2 linked regions of the Homo sapiens genome follow. The protein of the gene in region 2 purifies or fractionates together with the protein of the main gene of each other region. This does not show direct contact. Each region holds a gene or a part of one and is shown on either strand. Other genes may lie near its edges. The genes, in order: PKLR and NT5DC1.

What was found.
Region 1: the proteins of NT5DC1 (region 2) and PKLR purify together in Homo sapiens (affinity purification with mass spectrometry; 2 studies listed by BioGRID and IntAct, with this or other methods). This does not show direct contact.

Annotation. Positions count from the first base shown.
Region 1 is NC_000001.11:155,288,654-155,291,598, forward strand, and holds the end of PKLR (pyruvate kinase PKLR), read right to left. Parts: intron 2,026-2,945; coding exon 1,919-2,025; 3' UTR 640-1,918; downstream 1-639. UniProt on the Homo sapiens protein: Pyruvate kinase that catalyzes the conversion of phosphoenolpyruvate to pyruvate with the synthesis of ATP, and which plays a key role in glycolysis.
Region 2 is NC_000006.12:116,095,763-116,103,975, reverse strand, and holds the start of NT5DC1 (5'-nucleotidase domain-containing protein 1), read right to left. Parts: upstream 3,124-8,213; 5' UTR 3,046-3,123; coding exon 2,953-3,045; intron 1-2,952.

The sequences.
Region 1 (2,945 bases), on a different chromosome or scaffold from region 2:
ATCATAATCCATTCACCCGTTCATCATGTGTACTGAGCAGCTACCATGTTCAAGGTAATATGCCAGGCGCTGTATGTCTCCACTGCCAAGTAGAAGTGACTCAAAACCCTCTGACAAGGATATTCCCTTGGCTATGGTCCTGCCAGGTGCAGGCCCAGGCCCATGACCCCACCTTTACTAAGCACAAGTACTTGCCACTGCCATCACTGCCAAGTAACTAGATGTCTCTGTTTCCCTGCCAATGATCCTGCAGGTTCTGCCCGGTCTGGTTATCTTCCTGTTCCTGTAGCATAGCCAGGCACTGCCAGTCACCTGTGCCCCCATTGCTGTCAGCAGATGTCTTGGGTCCTGAGTGTGGGTATCCACTTTTACCCGCTCACTGCCACCTGTGGACACTCTGTGTCTACCCTCTGAGTGGGAACATACTTCTAAGTTCCCTGCAGTCTCTGTCCTGTGGTAGACCATCTTTTTGTAAACTGCGAGCTTCCTCTTCCCTGTACCCTCTGCCCCAGTCGTGACCCCCTAAAAGTTAAGGGGTAGTTGGCACCTCCTTATTAATATGCCAGCCTAGATCCCCCCCGGTGGAGGGGCAAATGGCTGAATCCTTGTGTGATATTTTTTTCTTCGCTTGTTTATTTATTCATTTATTTAATTGTATTTATTCATTTACTAACTTTATGTGTTACCAATTAATTTTGTTTACCCATTCCTTTATCCATCCCTCCCCTCCTTTTCAGGTAAGGAGACAGGAGGAGTAGGAGGAGGCAGGGCCTCTCCATGCCAGCCTCTGTGGTCCTTGCCCAAACCCATCAGCGCAATACTTGAACCTTCTCCCAGGTAGGGGCAGGAGGAGCCACATGAGAGAGGGAGAAGGACCGCGTTTACCTTTAGAGTTTTGTTTTGTTTTTTCCTTCTGAGTTTGCTGTTGGTGCAGGAATAAGGGAAAGGCCCAAGGTATCCAAGCCTGGGGAAGGGCAGGCCAGCCAGCACCTCTGCCTTCTCAGGGACAAGAGTAGTCCTTTACCACCCTCACTCTGCCTGTCCCCTCTCCTACTCTACAGCATTAAAGACTGTGGGACCAGGACCCTAAGTCTCCTTTCCTTCTGGGTGGGGAGTTCTGGGGTTCTTGGTGTGTGGGAGAAGTTTTATAATTGCTTCCAAACAGCTGGGTTTAAATATAAAATAGACACACTCATTTTTGGCTCTTGGTTTGTGTGTGGGAACAACATGAGTGGGAAGGAATTTCTGGGTGCAGAAGGAAGCAGCCGGGGATTTGACCAAGCAGGGTATCAGGCAGGCATGAGAGCAGCCAGGACAGTGGTCTACAAGCCCAGCACGGAGGTTGTGAAGACAGTGACAAAATCAGCTGCCCAGCCCTCACTTCTCCCCAGCATCCATCCCACCCAGTTTTCCCAAAAGCGTGGACTTTCATGTAACTGTTAGTCACCATGAAGGGGTAGCCTGCCCTGGCACGAGATGCCCAGATTATCATGAGGGCTACATATGAGAATGGGAGACTGTGGACAAGATTGCCCTGTCTCCCCTCTCCCCCACCCCAAGGGATGGGATGCCTGGGGTTATGGAATTAACCAGCCAAACTGGGATTAAAGACTCAAGGCATCTTAGGGCCTGCTGAGCAGATTGGATGCAGGGAATGTACAATTGGTGCTGTTGGGTGGCCAGTGCATAATTGGACACAGACTTTCAGGACCTGTGTGAAATGGAGATGGGGAAGGGGCAACCTCGAAGGGGCTAGATGACAGTTATAGTCTCAGATAGGCCTCAGGTAGGGAGGGTCAGGAATAGAGAAGAGAGGACTTAAAGGTGGGGCTTTGGAGGGGTGTGGGCTGGAGAACGTAGACTGGGGAGGAAGGGATGGGGTACAAGGGTAGGCTGGGCCAGAGGAGGGAGGGGCGTCTCAGGATATGCTTAGCACCCGCATGATGTTGGTGTAGCCGGAGCCAGGTCGCCAGCCTGTCACCACAATCACCAGGTCTCCAACACGGAGGAAGCCACGGAGCTTTCCTGGGGGAGGGAAAGAAAACAAATCATTGGACAGGTGTGGTGGCTCACACCTGTAATCCCATCACTTTGGGAAGCCAAGGCAGGAGGATCACCTGAGGTCAGGAGTTTGAGACCAGCCTGGCCAACATGGTGAAACCTTGTCTCTACTGAAAATACAAAAATTAGCTGGGTGTGGTGGCGCATGCCTGTAATCCCAGCTACTAGGGAGGCTGAGGCAGGAGAATCGCTTGAACTCAGGAGGTAGAGGTTGCAGTGAGCCGAGATCACACCACTGCACTCCAGCCTGGGGACAGAGCAAGACTCCATCTCAAAATAATAATAATAATAATAATAATAATAATAATAATAATAATAATAATAATAAAAGAAGAAAAGAAAGAAAATTAGTCATTGAGGGACCAGGCCAGCCCTGTAACGAGAACCAGCCACCACCTTTCACCACATCAAGGCCATCCTGTAGGGAATGAGGCAGTGAAGTATGTCCCACGGGTGGCATGCAGGGAATGTGACCACTGCAGTATATTAAAGGTGTAAGAGATGCCAGCACGGTGGCTGACGCCTGTAATCCCAGCACTCTGGGAGTCCGAGGCGGGCGGATCACGTGGTCAAGACATTGAGACCATCCTGGCCAACATGGTGAAACCCTGTCTCTACTAAAAATACAAAAATTATCCAGGCGTGGTGGCGCATGCCTGTAGTCCCAGCTACTCAGGAGGCTGAGGTGGGAGAATCACTTGAACCCAGGAGGCAGAGATTGCAGTGAGCCGAGATCGTACCCCTGCACTCCAGCCTGGCGACAGAGCAAGACTCTCTCTCAAAAAAAAAAAAAGGTGCAGGAGTATCTGTGGGCTAGGGCAGAGTGTGTTGCTAAGTAGCACGGCCGTCTGCCTGTGTGGCTATGCTGATGGAAGAGGTATTTG
Region 2 (8,213 bases):
GTTCCCACTTAAGGTTGCCAGATAAAATTTAAAAATGCCTAGGTAAATGTGACTTTCAAATAAAAAACAAATAATTTTTTTTTAGTATAAGCATGCAATATTTGGGACCCCACTCTCCCACTCACACATCTACGTTAACTGACTGGTATCAGACTTCTGAGTCTGCAACCTTAGAGAGGAGAAACCATGTGTCATCCTCTCTTCTAGAATGCCTTTCCTGAGGCCTCATGTGAGGGGGACACACTCAGTTCTGTGTTTGCACAACTCTGTGCAGTTGTTAAATGCCTACAAAACTGAAAGGAGACGCACTCACAGCTCTCCATGATGCAGCCCCCACTGACTTCTCCACCATCTTCTCCTGCAACTTGCCACCTTTTGCTTGCACCCAGCAGTTCCCGGTGCTGTTGCTCACCTCGAGGTTCTGACCTTTACTCTAACTCCTCTGGGTGAAGCACTCCTCTCCACCTCCTCACCTGCCAGCTCCCGGCCTTTCCTCTGTGTTTTCGGGCACCATACAGACAGCAAGGTGGGAAGAAGCAGAAATCCACAGCCGGACTACCTCGCTTAGTTGCCCTGGATACACTTTCCTTCTGTGCCCCGTTGCTTGATGCTCTCTTAACAGTGACTAAATCACTGTTAAGTGATTAAACAGTGGTGATAATATCTACCTCACAGGGACGTTGTAAGGATTAAATCCATTCATATAAGCAGCATGCTTATTAGAATCATGGCTGTATCATATTCTGTTATTAAAATACCTATTATCTATTCAGTCTATTTATTGAGTCCAGTATGTGCCCAGCACTAAGCTCGGCACACAGAACACACAAGAAACTGTCACAGATACTGATGGAGTCATCACGCTGGGCTCTAGGGGAAGTCCAACAAGTAAACAGGAAGTGTTAATATCATGCAGCATGTGCTATGAGGAATGAAGGGTTTTGTGGAAAACTGAAGGTGGGCTTAGAATGGAAGGGCAAACTTTAAGGGCCAAAAAGACTTCCTAAGGGGAACGATGTTTAAGATGAGGCCTGATGGGATGAAGAGCTTCTGTGCAGAGCAAAGAGGCCCTCCAGGCACTGTTGGCAGCGTGAAGCAAGACCCAGGTCATACTACCCACCACAAGGGACCAAGACTAACTCTTCAGCATTTTTGCCTACTGTGTAAGGCTGCCTGGAGGCCTGCGTGTTGATCTCTGTATCCTCAGCTCTAGCATGGTGCTCAGCACACTGTGGGACTTAAAATAAAAAAGATTTCCACACCAAACATGATCCAAAACTCAATAGGTTACTGTTTTCAAGCTTTAAACATCACTTATTCTCCAGGTTTGCAGTAAAAAAACCTCTTGTCTTTGAGAATCTTATATTCTGAAATTTTATGATCACCTATGGACAACACTAGCTCTAACATGACAGTGGTTTAACAATATTACCTCCAAATGAAGGTAACTAAAGAGGAGACACACAAAACTGTGAACCAGGAAGGATTCGAAAGACACAGAGGGAAGGAAAACATGTATCAAAGACCTAGGGGAAGCAGTGGCCAAAGAATCAAGCAGTAAAAAAGCCTTCTTAATTCTCAATGTGACTAAGGAAACCAGACCTGTAAGGTAAGAAAGCAGGAAAGTGTAACAGCAGAAAAAGGACATTTAAAAAAAAATTTAGCATCTGGGCATAGAAAACACACGAGAAATTCGGGCAGCCACTCTTTTTTGACCTTTAACGTGTACCTGAACTGGTGGGTGCAGGAACTGGCGGGTGCCCATAATGGGGCACAACCCTGGCTGATGTCTGCACCAGTGATCTAGAGTTCTACCCATAAACTGTGAGGTTTCCAAATAGTTTGGGTGGTAACCATAAAAGCAAACACTTGTCTTTGCCAAGGTACTATTCTAAGCATTATACATCTCTTACTCATTTAATCCTTGCAACAATCTTGTGAGGTAAATCCAATTATTAGCTCCATTTTACAGATGGGGAAACTGAGAAGCAGCACAGGTTAAGTAACTTCCTCGAAGTCACAGAGCTAGTAACAGTGGAGCTGGTGTCCTAAGCTAGGCAGTCTGGCTGAGGAGTCCTCGCTTTCACCACTGTACTCATAACCAGCTCTTTTTCTGTCTGGATGCTTAGATCTTGGACTAAAAAAATCTGGTAACTTTTCAAAATTAGTTTCCTTGGGAATTGGGAAACCAAAGGAATAGTGGAGGGAGGGCAATTAATTTGAGTGTACAGGTCTGGAAGCATGCATACTCCATGTCCCCCTCCCTCAGGGCACAGTGAGGACCCAAACTTCGCAGACTGTTGGTAGGACTGGAATGTATTCAAAGTGCACGGAGCACGTAGTCGATGCGCAATAAATATGTATTTTCTTCTCTTGATAGAAGGTAAAACTAGGGCTAAGATCTTAATGACTTTTCAACTAGTGTTCCTTTCAATACACTACACTATATACTACGCATCTCTCCCAGATTGCAGTTTAAACACTGATGGGTGGTTGATCGTGCAAACAGAAAAATGCAGCCAAAAAAAATGCAAGTACCAAATCAAGTGGCTGTGTCCACAATCAGCTGGTGTCCAGAAAGACATGCAGAGAAAGTTCCACGACGTGAGATCTTCAAGGACAGCCCTAGTCCCCCTGACCCCGCCCCTCCTCGGCCCTAGAAATCACCGATTCCCCAGCCCGGTCTTGCGCAGTTTGCCCCTCCTTCGTTCTTCCCTATCCCTCTCAACATTAGCTAATGGCTGAGGTAAATGTGCCGGTCCCCACGGCACCGGCGCGGAGCGGAGGCTGCACACTTCCGCCCCTTCTCGCCGCTGGAGGCCGCGCTCTGCGGCAAGACTCGGCCGCCGCAGGCCCCGGGCAGCGTCCGCCGTTGCCCAAACCTGGAGGAAACTCAAGCCCCAGCCGCCATGGAGGTTGCGCGCAGTGCGCCCCGGAGCCCGCGCCACTCACCGGGGCGCTCTCGGGCAGGTTGTAGCGACACAGAGTGTGGTCCAGGTCGAATCCGACCACGTCGCAGGCGGCCAGGGAGAAGTGCTGAGCCATGGCTGCGCGGGGAGCACCAGGGAGCGCCTCGGCCGCGAAGGGTGCAAGGAGCTGGCTGGCGGGACGCTGCGGGACAGGACCGGGCCGGACGCGGCGGGGCGGGGCTGCGGCTGCCAGGGCACACGGCGCGGCAGCCTCTCCCGCCTCCCGCGCCCTCGAGCACCGCCCCTCGATACGCTTAGCCCCCGCCCCTCGCGCGGCGGGCGTCCTGCGCCGCCCGGAGTCAGGTAGTCAGCTCGCGTCCTCCTGGTACCCCAATGCCGGCGACTCCTGATCTGTTCCGCAAGCCTAGGAGCCCAGAAGGCAGTAGGGGTCCAGGAGCGGTGCCGCTGCTGCACAGCTGAGACCTGTAGGCACGTAGCCTTTCCCGAGGGCTACCACAAAATTAACCGGGACACTCCATCGCCTCAGGGCGCCTCGGAAACCAGGAGATCATGAGGTTAGACCTGACCTTTTACCCCTGTGTGAGGAATAGTAAGATCATAGAAAAAATTCATCCGCTAATATCCCTCTGACCCAGTTAGCCTACAATTTGGAAGGTCTTTTCACCCACGTGATCTTTGATAGTGGTTTAAACCAAAAACTTTATATTCCTTGGTTTCCTAAGTGGTTAAGTGGAAGACAGACCTTTCACTATTTCATACCCTGGAGTGCGTTAGAAAATAAATGTATCAGACATCGTGAAGAACCATTTTGCAAGATGATACTTGTTATGGAAACCAATATTGGTTATTACTTGATAATCCTATTTTGTTATTGTAATGAATTTTTTATGAAAGGGCATCAGAAACTTCATAGAAATATATAGAGCATACTACAAAAAACTTTTGCAAACCGGGTTTAAGGTTTATAGAGCACAAAATGTTTTGAGTGACATTTGCTTAATTCTCTCAAGAACTGTATAACTACTACCATTTTAGATGCAGAGAAAGTTAATCCATTACATACAATGTATGCCTTAGGGCATTTAATTCTCTTCCTGATTTCCGGATGTGAAGGACTAGCACTTTGAGATCTTTATTACATAGTACCTCATTTTAAAAAGAAAATACAAATCTATTATGTTTACACTGCTTCAGTTCTCAATTTAAAGGAACAATGTGTCTAATGGGACAAATCAATAGTCGTGACATAATGAAAATATAATTGATTGAGAACTGCATTTAACCCTTTCAAATACTAATCCTTCTGAGGCTAATAGACCAATCAGAGGATTAATTTAGTGCAATAGATAGTACAATTGAGTAGGAGGACACTTATACCTAGTAGACCCATTTGAATAAAATTGATAACTTGTTCCATTATAACACTTAAAAGCCCCAAACAAATCTCTCTGGAATAGGAAAAGTAAAGAATCTTCAAGAAGATTAAGCTGTTCACTGATGAGTCCAACAATCATGTTTTCAATGTCTGTGAACCAAAAGAGAAAAGGCTGGATTGTTGGAGAGGCTGGAAAAAGCTTGTTGGCCCTGGAGCATTGACCTTGGCATTCTCCTCTGCACCTTGCAATAGAATGCTACCAAAGTCAAACTTCCAGGTGCATGCCACATTGAAGGGCACATGTTTCCTTGGGGAATATCTTGTTTCATGTGGGAGTAGGTGCTTTAGGTACTTTAGGGACTTCCCTTAGTAATACAAATGTACTAGTACATTCATTGTAAGAGGGAAGAGTATAAAAGGATTGTTTTTTGTTGACTTAGCAAAAACTTCTCCTTACAAAACCTCTTGAGTGTGCTGAATTGTGAACAGGAAATTGACTTGGGGTAAGGGGAGAGAGGGAACCAGGGCACTCTTAAAGAGAAAAAGACCCCTGGGTCGATAACCAAGTGGTCCTGGGACTGGATCTGGCTATTACATGCACATCAACAATCTTATGTACTTGCTGATTAACAAATTATATATATTCTGCATGTTTGCACAAACAGTTCTTGTGCTAGAGAGTCCACATCATTTAAACTTTGTGGGAGAATTTTGCAAATGATCCAATCCTAGAGGCTTGTACTCTTTCTTGAGCCCCACTCACCTTTCCTTTGTACCTCAAACCTCAGTCTGACTCTTCCAGAAATATAGGGGATGGTTCCCTTCTCTTCTCCCATTCCCTACATAACCCTGAGTTTAAATACAAACACTCAGTTTAATTGTTTCATAAGGCTTATTTTTGGATAAAGATATTTCATTTTCCCTGCACATTAAACTTTTATCACACTTACTGATAAAATGCCACAGCTCTTGTATTATCAACTACAAGTTCAGTCTTCTACTTAGATACCAATTAATTTCTGTTTCTTTGAGTATCATGGACTGAATTTTGTCCCCCACTCATTCATGTGTTGAAGACCTAACCCACAATGTGTTTATATTTGACATAGGGCCTTTAAGGAAGTAATTAATGTTAAATAAGGCCATAAGGGTGGAGCCCTAATCCAACAGGATTAGCATTCTTGTAAGAAGAGGAAGGGGCACCAGAGTTTTCAAGCACACAAGAAAGGCCATGTGAGGAGCCACAAAACCACGGCTGTCTGCCTGGCGTCGTGGCACACACCTGTAATCCCAGCACTTTGGGAGGCCAAAGTAGGCAGATCGCTTGAGGTAAGGAGTTCAAGACCAGCTTGGGCAACATAGCGAGACCCATCTCTAGAAAAAATACAAAAATTAGCAGGGTATGGTGGCAGGCACCTATAGTCCTAGCTGTTGTAGGGGCTGGGGTGGGAGGATCGCTTGAACCTGGGAGGCAGAGGTTGCAGTGGGCTGGAATCAGGCCATCGCACTCCAGCCTGGGTGACAGAGAGAGACCCTGTCTTTTAAAAAAAAAAAAAAAAAAAAAAAAAAAGCTGTCTGTAAGCCAAGGAGAGTGGCTTCACCAGAAACCAACCCTGACAGCGCCTTGATCTTGGACTTTGAGCCTCCAGAACTGTGAGAAAATAATTTTTTGTTGTCTAAACCCCATTGTGTGGTATTCTGTTAAGGCACGCTGAGCCAACTAAGGCAGTTAATAAGGATAATTGACTCAAATCAGTGTTGTGTTAAATGTAGGAAATATTTGCCATTTGAAAGGTCTGTAAAGGACATGAACTTGGGTTTATGTTATTTGTTGACTTCTTGAAGTTGGGTACTTTTGCTTATGTGTAACATTAATACCATGCTGTGAAGTTTTAGAGTTTTTTTGTTTTTAGTATTTCATGTACTGTTTTTTCTTATACTTATGAGTTATGTAATAATTTAGAAATATTCAGAAACAGGAAGTTATATTACAGCCGATTTTCTAGAATTAAATTTCATTATTACAATTGATCTGCTTTTAATTGAGGTGGTACTATAATTTAGCAATTTTAACCTTAGGTGTGACTTGTGATTAGCTAGCTTAAGCTTTAGACTCTATAATATCTCAATAACTGATCTTTTGTGAATTTATAATACTTTATTTTAACATCTATATTGTAAATATGATTTGCCATACATTTTTGGGAAGGAGGGAAATGGCCTGTTTCTTTTTTCATTAGTTTAAAATATGCTTTTCTAAATATTCCTAATTAAACATTGTATGTTCAACTTTTTGTATAACCTAAGCCAATCTACATATCTTCTGTGGCACATATAATTCTTTAAGGGGTAAGAAAAAAGTTCATTTACTAAATTGGAAAAAAATAGGAAAAATATGAATTTCTAAAAATAAAACTCTATGGCACTTAAATATTAGACATTTAGCTACATAGAACCAAATACTTATTTGTAATATTATGCTGAGGCCTTTAGATGGCAGTAGTCCTGCATGAGGAATATTTTTTATTTTTTTTTAGTAATCTTAAAATCTTTACATTTCTTAATAAAAAATACTTCATTTTCTACTCTCTTGATTTTCTACTCTGTTCTTACCACAAGAAGAAGAAGCCTACTTAGAAATTTCACTGTGGTTTTTTGGTGTGTGAATTTATTTTCGATGATGGAGAGGGAGGACGTAATGGGACAAAGTCCTTTTGTGTCCGTAGTTGGTTCCTTCCAGGGGGTTCTTGGTCTCACTGACTTTAAGAATGAAGCCGTGGACCTTTGTGGTGAGTGTTACAGCTCTTAAAGGTGGCATGGACCCAAAGAGTGAGCAGAAGCAAGATTTATTGTGAAGAGCGAAAGAACAAAGCTTCCACAGCATGGAAGAGGACCTGAGTGGGTTGCCGCTGCTGGCTGGAGTGGACAGCTTTTATTCCCTTATTTGTCCCTGCACACGTCCTGCTGATTGGTCCATTTTACAGAGCGCTGATTGGTCCATTTTATAGAGTGCTGATTGGTCCATTTTACAGAGTGCTGATTGGTGCATTTACAATCCTTTAGCTAGACACAGAGTGCTCATTGGTGCATTTTTGCAGAGTGCTGATTGGCACATTTACAATCCTTTAGGTAGACACAGAGTGCTGATTGGTGCGTTTTTACAGAGTGCTGATTGGCGTGTTTACAGTCTTTTAGCTAGACACAGAGTGCTGATTGGTGTGTTTTTACAGAGTGCTGATTAGTGCATTTACAATCCTTTAGTTAGACACAGAGTATTGATTGGTACATTTACAATCCTTTAGCTAGACACAAAAAATCCCCACTCGACCCACAAAGTACAGCTGGCTTCACCTCTCAATCTCTCCTCTAAACAGGACACCCCAACTGCTGTTGGGAATTGGGCGATGACCATTCTAGCTACTTCCTGTGGGATAGGGGCAAAGAAGGGGCCCTACAGTTGTACTGTCCTCTAGAGGGGAACTCTTTAGGCCAGTCAAAGGGCCAGTGGGTTTGTCCACGGGTCCTCGGTAGAAGTTGTTAGTTGAGCTCATTTGTGGTTCCATTTGTAAGACCATCTGTAGCTTGATGGCCGTGATCCTAGAGGAACCAAATTTGACAAGGAGGTTAAAAATAAAGGGCCTGAAGGCGAGTAATGGCAAGATGGCTGTCATGGGACCTAGAAAGGGGAGAAGTCATGTCACCCAATTCCAGAGGTTGGTATAAGAGTTTGAAAGGCATTGTCTGATATCAGAAGCCTTTTCCTATAAATGCTGGGCGGCATCTCATACTGTCCCTGACTGGTTAGTGTAAAAGCAACACTCTTCCCCTAAGAAGCTGCAAAGTCCTCCTTTCTCAGCAGTGAAGAGGTCTAGGCCTTGGCAGTTTTGGAGAGTCACTGCTGCCAAAGA